Linked DNA regions of Homo sapiens: region 1 is linked to region 2. The links come from fine-mapping of genetic effects on gene expression. A gene starts in region 2. The other region holds a variant in brackets. All regions are shown on one strand. Distances are from middle to middle. Region 1 has its middle 12 kb from the start of HS3ST6. Region 2 holds the start of NUBP2 (NUBP iron-sulfur cluster assembly factor 2, cytosolic).

Region 1 (2,894 bases), 150 kb before region 2:
AGAGTAAAGAATAACAAGGCAGCATTACTGCAAACATGTCTCACCTCCCACCATAGGGTGGTTTTTCTCCTATCTCAGAACTGAACAAATGTACAATTGGGTTTTATACCGAGACATTCAGTTCCCAGGGGCAGGCAGGAGACAGTGGCCTTCCTCTATCTCAACTACAAGAGGCTTTCCTCTTTGACTAATCCACCTCAGCACAGACCCTTTACAGGTGTCGGGCTCGGGGACGGTCAGGTCTTTCTCATACCACGAGGCCATATTTCAGACTATCACATGGGGAGAAACCTTGGACAATACCCTGCTTTCAAGGGCAGAGGTCCCTGCAGCTTTCCACAGTGCATTGTGCCCCTGGTTTATTGAGACTGGAGAATGGCAATGACTTTTACCAAGTATACTGCTTGTAAGCATTTTGTTAACAAGGCACGTCCTGCACAGCCCTACATCCCTTAAACCTTGATTTCATACAGCACATGTTTTTGTGAGCTCCAGATTGGATCAAAGTGGTTGGGTCAAAGTGGCTGGGGCAAAGCTACAAATTAACAACATCTCAGCAAAGCAATTATTTAAAGTACAGGTCTTTTTCAAATGGAGTCTCTTATGTCTTCCCTTTCTACATAGACACAGTAACAGTCTGATCTCTCTTTCTTTTCCCTACACCAGCTACTCGGGAGGCTGAGGCAGGAGAATCGCTTGAACCTGGGAGGCTCAGGCTCAGCCTGGGAGGCTGAGGCTCAGGGAGGTTGTGGTGAGCCGAGATGACACCATTGTACTCCAGCCTGGGCAACAAGAGCAAATCTCCGTCTCAGGAAAAAAAAAAAAAAAAAGATGTGGTAGGGAGGTGGGGGTGGGAGGGGGCAAGTGGGCTCAGGAGGTGGGGGGGGTGCCGGCAAGCAGACTGCTTGAGTGGGGAGACGGGTGAACCGCAGGACCCCAAGGCCCCCTCACATTGAGAGTCCAGGGAGGGATGGCTGTGGGCAAGGTCTGTATGCCAGGTCACCGGAGGAGGGGGTGGTGTTTCCAGCAATGGAGCGTCTGGTGTGGAATCAGTCACCTTACCCTCCCGCTCCTGCTGGGTGATACCCCATCCTTGCGGCTGCCCCCGCGTCTTCCTTGAGGAACAGCAGACTCTGAGGGGGCAGCCCCTTCCTCCCCAGGGCACGGCCTTGCCCCTCAAGGGTTGGGTTCAGGGGCAGCGGGCAGGCCTGGGCACGGCTGGGCCGTCACCTCGGGCGAGGGATGGGGAATAAAAAGGAACTCTGTCTGAGACACCGTGATCCCTCGCCGGGGCCCAGGCCTGGCTCAGAGCAGCCACCAGGAAGCGTCTGCGGCCCGTATGGGGGAACAGACCATACTTCAGACCCTTGCTCAACCACCGCTTTCCGCTCTCTCAGTGGCAGGTGCCGCGCAGAGCCTGGCCCTGGTGGGGCTGTGGCCCCTGGTGGGGGTGGGGGCCGTGGGCAGCTCCCGGGAGGCTCCTACCCGCGGACGGGTCGGCAGGTGGGAGGAGGGGGCGTCCGGTAGGGTCGGCGAAGGCGCCGAGGCCACGTGCAAGCCCCGGCCCTCGAGGCGGCCTCCCGGGCCCGGGCGCGGGACCGTGCGCAGGACTGACCAGCAGGGGGCACGCTCGCTC[G/C]GTGCTGCCAGGCCGGGTGGTCTGCGTGCGCAGGCGCGGCGGGGGGCCTGACGGCGCTGCAGTTCCCCGGGTGGCCGCGGGGGTTGCGGCGGAGGCAGCGAGCGTCCGCGCAGAGAAACCGCCTCGGCCACGCCCGCCCTTGGGCCGGTGCTGGGGACCCAGGCCGAGGCCTCTGGTCGTCTGAGGGTGCCAGGGGCAGCTGCAGGGGGTTTGCCGGGCTTCACGAAGTGACCGCTACAGGGAGTGCAGTCGCAGCCACGGGTGCCCCTTCCAGGGTCACCGGAGGACAGAGCCAGGGGCGGGGGCGGGGGTGGCGCGGCCGGTGGGAACGGCAGGCGTGGTTGGGGGCGCGGGTGGAGGCAGGACGCCCCCAGCCCCTTCTTCAGGGCAGCTGCGTGGGACCCAGGCTGCCCGGACCTGGCCCGCCCTCAGGGCTAGATCCTAGGGTTCCACATCCCAGGCCTCTTTCCTCCGCCCACCTCTCCCCGCTACAACCCAGGCAGCTCCTGGCTGCCTTCCCCCAACCAGAGTCCTCTCTGCAAAATAATAACCAGACCAGGTCCCTCCCTCAGAGGTTCCCACAGTCCTTGCCTGCTCTGACCTAGGCTGACCCCACCTCTCCAGCTTGATTTCCTACTCCATAAATGAGATCGGTGTTGTTTATCATAATTACAGTTTGGGGTTGTTTCTTTTTTTTTTTTTTTTTGAGACGGAGTCTGGCACTGCCGCCCAGGCTGGAGTGCAGTGGCGCGATCTCGGCTCACTGCAAGCTCCGCCTCCCGGGTTCACGCCATTCTCGTGCCTCAGCCTCCCGAGTAGCTGGGACTACAGGCGCCCACCACTGCGCCCGGCTAATTTTTTTGTATTTTTGGTAGAGCCGGGGTTTCACTGTGTTAGCCAGGATGGTCTCGATCTCCTGACCTCATGATCCGCCCAGCAGGGCCTCCCAAAGTGCTGGGATTACAGGCATGAGCTACCGCGCCGGGCCTGGTTGTTTCTTCTTGAGAAGGGGGTTTCTCTGTTGCCTGGGCTGGAGTGCAGTGGCATGACCATGGATCACTGCAGCCTTGAATTCCTGGACTCAAGCGATCCTCCCAGGTCAACCTCCCGAATAGCTAGGACTACAGGTGTGCTACTACGCCCCGCTAATTTTTGTATTTTTAGTAGAGACAGGGTTTTGCCATGTTGTCCAGGCTAGTCTGGAACGCCTGGGCTCAAGTGACACTCCCGCTTTGGTCTCCCAAAGTGCTGGGATTAC
Region 2 (2,894 bases):
CAGCCTTGGCGACAGTTAAGACCCTGTCTCAAAAAAAAAAAAAAGCTTCTATCAATCTCAGTAATATCCTTACTTTGTAGTAAATCCGTCCTGATAATAAGGACAGGCTTTTCCAGGCTTCTCCTCTGGAATAAGACTCCAGCACTGGGCCAGGCGCCGTGGCTCACGCCTGTAATCCCAGCACTTTGGGAGGCTGAGACGGGCGGATCACGAGGTCAGGAGATCGAGACCATCCTGGCTAACACGGTGAAACCCCGTCTCTACTAAAAATACAAAAAATTAGCCGGGCGTGGTGGCGGGCGCCTGTAGTCACAGCTACTCGGGAGGCTGCGGCAGGAGAATGGCGTGAACCCGGGAGGCGGAGCTGGCAGTGAGCCGAGACCGCGCCACTGCACTCCAGCCTGGGCGACAGAACGAGACTCCGTCTCAAAAACAAAAGACTCCAGCACTCGGTTTCTAATCTGTCAGAGTTGTGCTGCAAGACCTTGCTGTCCGAGGAATGTTTTCCTTTTGGTATCGGACTCGAGGTCTCTTAGAAGATAAATGCGGCTCCCACTACTCAGGAGGGCCCACGGCGCTGATCTGGCGAACGGATCGTCCCCACTGGTGTGAATTCTGTCCCGCGCAACTTACACTTTTCTGAACACTGAGAGCGCCACTTCCACAAAGAACTTAAAAGCATGTGAGATTCTGGCGTCCGTCTTACTTTCATGACTGCGCGCGTGTGATTTATTTAGAGACAGGGTCTCGCTCTTGCCCGGGCTGCGGTGCAGTTGCAACCGCGACCTCCAGGATAGCGGGGCCCACAGGCGCCACCGCGCCCGCCTACAACGCGGTGCTCAACAAAGTTAACTTTAAAAGCTCCCCCAACTCCACGACTCAGGCCCTCCGAGATCACGGAGCTTCCACATCGAAGCAGGAGCACGCGGGAAACGACCCTGTTTAGAAAATGCCCGCGCCGCGGCCTCTGGCCCGGCCCAGCCACGCCGGCCGGTGATGGTCGCACCGGAGGCGCGCGACGCAGCGAGGCCGCCCCGGGAAGGGACGCGGCGGGGCCCCAAGCGAGGCCCTGGAGCGGCTCCGCACCCTGGCCCGCCACTCACCGGCCGCCGCCTCCATCCCGCCGCCTCCAGGAGCTCGCGGCTGCAGTCCGCTTACGCCCGCGGGCCGTCAGCCTCCCAGCTAGAGCGAAGGGCCTTCCAACCAATGGGCAGTGCGTGCCCGCCCGTGGCTCTTCTTGACAGGCCTAATCCTGCTGTCCCAGCCAATCAGCTTGCCGGAGGAGCTCTCGATCCGGTCCCGCAGGTTCCGGCGCAGACGATGACACGGACCTACTTTCCGGTCAACGCGGCCTGCGGTACCACCTCCCACCCGGGTCCAATGTGCGCGCGAGCTTTGTCTCCAACCGCTTGGGAACTGACCAATAGGAACGTTGGATTAGGACTGACAGTTCCTGAAACCTCTCGGCAATAGCTTTGTCACCCGACTCCCGCCCCCTCTCCCGAAGCTCCGAGACAGGTGTGCCCGCCCCTCGCCGCCGGAGCCAATGGGCGCAGGGGGCGGGGATTGTTTACGTCTCGCTCCGGGGCGGAAAGTGGGTCAGGGCCGGGCCGGCGGAGCGCGCAGCGGGGGCTGCAGGTGAGTGGCGGGGCACGGGCCGACGTCTCGGGCTCTGGGCGGGCGCGCTGACCTTGCGGGCGCGGCGGTAGCAGCGCGGCCAGGGCGCCGCCTTTGTTCCTCTCCGGAGGGCCGCGCCCGAGAGAGGCTTCCCCGGTGCCGCCGACTCCGGAACCCGCGCGCCCGCGGGAGGGAACAGCCAGGCCGGGCTGCCGCCGGGGAGGGCGGCTCCCGCTGCACACGCGCTCGCCTGGGGCTGGGCAGGGTTCGGCGGTCCGGGCGCCGCGATCCGCCCCGGCCTCCCTGGAACCCCACCCGGGGCCCAGCGGGCGTTGCCAGCCGCGAGCCCGGCGCAGGGGTCGGCCCTGGAAGGCTAGGCGGGAACCCCGGAGCTGGCGAGGGAGGTGCCAGGCAGGTGGCCTGGGAAGCGCAGACCTGGCCCTCGCAGCCTTTTGCATTTTATACCATAACAGCGGCCAGCGCTGAGCAGGTTTTAAGATTTGTGTTTCACGAGGAGCCCTGGCGGTAGCGAGCGGAGGGGAAGGCGAGCTGCGCGGCCCAGGAGACGGTGGCGGGAGGAGGATGCAGGCGGGTGCGGCGGTCGGGCCGGGCGTGAGGGGAAGGTGTCGGGGAGCGGTCACGGTGCTTCTGGCATGAGGAACTGGGAGGCCGGAGATGCCATTTGTCAAACCGGACGACAGAGGAGGAGCGAGTGGAGGTTTTAGATGCCTGCGGGACAGGCGGGCGGGGCAGCCAGGTTCGTGAGGTGGAACCGGAGAGAGGGGCTGGGATTCGCATTCCGGAGTCATGGGTGTCTGGGTGGCGTTTCACAGGATCTACCTGGGTTTTATTGAGCTGCTCAGATCCTGGAGTGAGGTACGGGCTCCTGAAGCGTTCTGGAGCCCTGGCTGGGCACCGGTGCGGCCCCTGCAGTCCCCACTTTGAGTGGGTCCGTGGCCCAGCCTGGAAGCTCAGGGCTGGGAGTGCTGTGAGTCTTCCTTTGCCCAGAGCCTGTGTTTTCTTCTAGATTCTTTCCACCATGGCCAGACGCCCCCGGAACAGCAGGGCCTGGCACTTCGTCCTGAGTGCAGCCCGCCGAGACGCAGATGCCCGGGCCGTGGCTCTAGCAGGCTCCACTAACTGGGGCTACGACTCTGATGGGCAGGTAGGTTCCAGCGGGCGAGGCGGACGTGGCTGGCCTAAGGTGTGGAGATGCCCTAGGCAGGCAGGCAGACATTACCTGAACACGGAATCAGTCGGAGAAAAAGATGCTTCTG

What was found. PIP is the estimated chance that this variant, and not a neighbour inherited with it, causes the effect.
Region 1: its variant is fine-mapped to the expression of NUBP2 in whole blood (TOPMed, PIP above 0.99).

What each region holds. Positions count from the first base shown.
Region 1 is chr16:1,928,597-1,931,490 of GRCh38, reverse strand. No RefSeq gene overlaps it. Among named protein-coding and RNA genes, the nearest start is that of HS3ST6, 12 kb to the right of the region's middle. The variant G/C (reference allele first, on the strand shown) is at 1,637.
Region 2 is chr16:1,781,246-1,784,139 of GRCh38, reverse strand. NUBP2 (NUBP iron-sulfur cluster assembly factor 2, cytosolic) reads right to left here and starts at 1,180. Exons shown (of 7, transcript NM_012225.4): 1 at 1,104-1,180. The coding sequence starts at 1,119. EME2 (essential meiotic structure-specific endonuclease subunit 2) reads right to left here. Exons shown (of 8, transcript NM_001257370.2): 8 at 2,438-2,894. SPSB3 (splA/ryanodine receptor domain and SOCS box containing 3) reads left to right here and starts at 1,569. Exons shown (of 7, transcript NM_080861.4): 1 at 1,569-1,638; 2 at 2,645-2,782. The coding sequence starts at 2,657. RefSeq lists silencers at 238-464, 892-1,101, 1,602-1,961 and an enhancer at 1,242-1,391.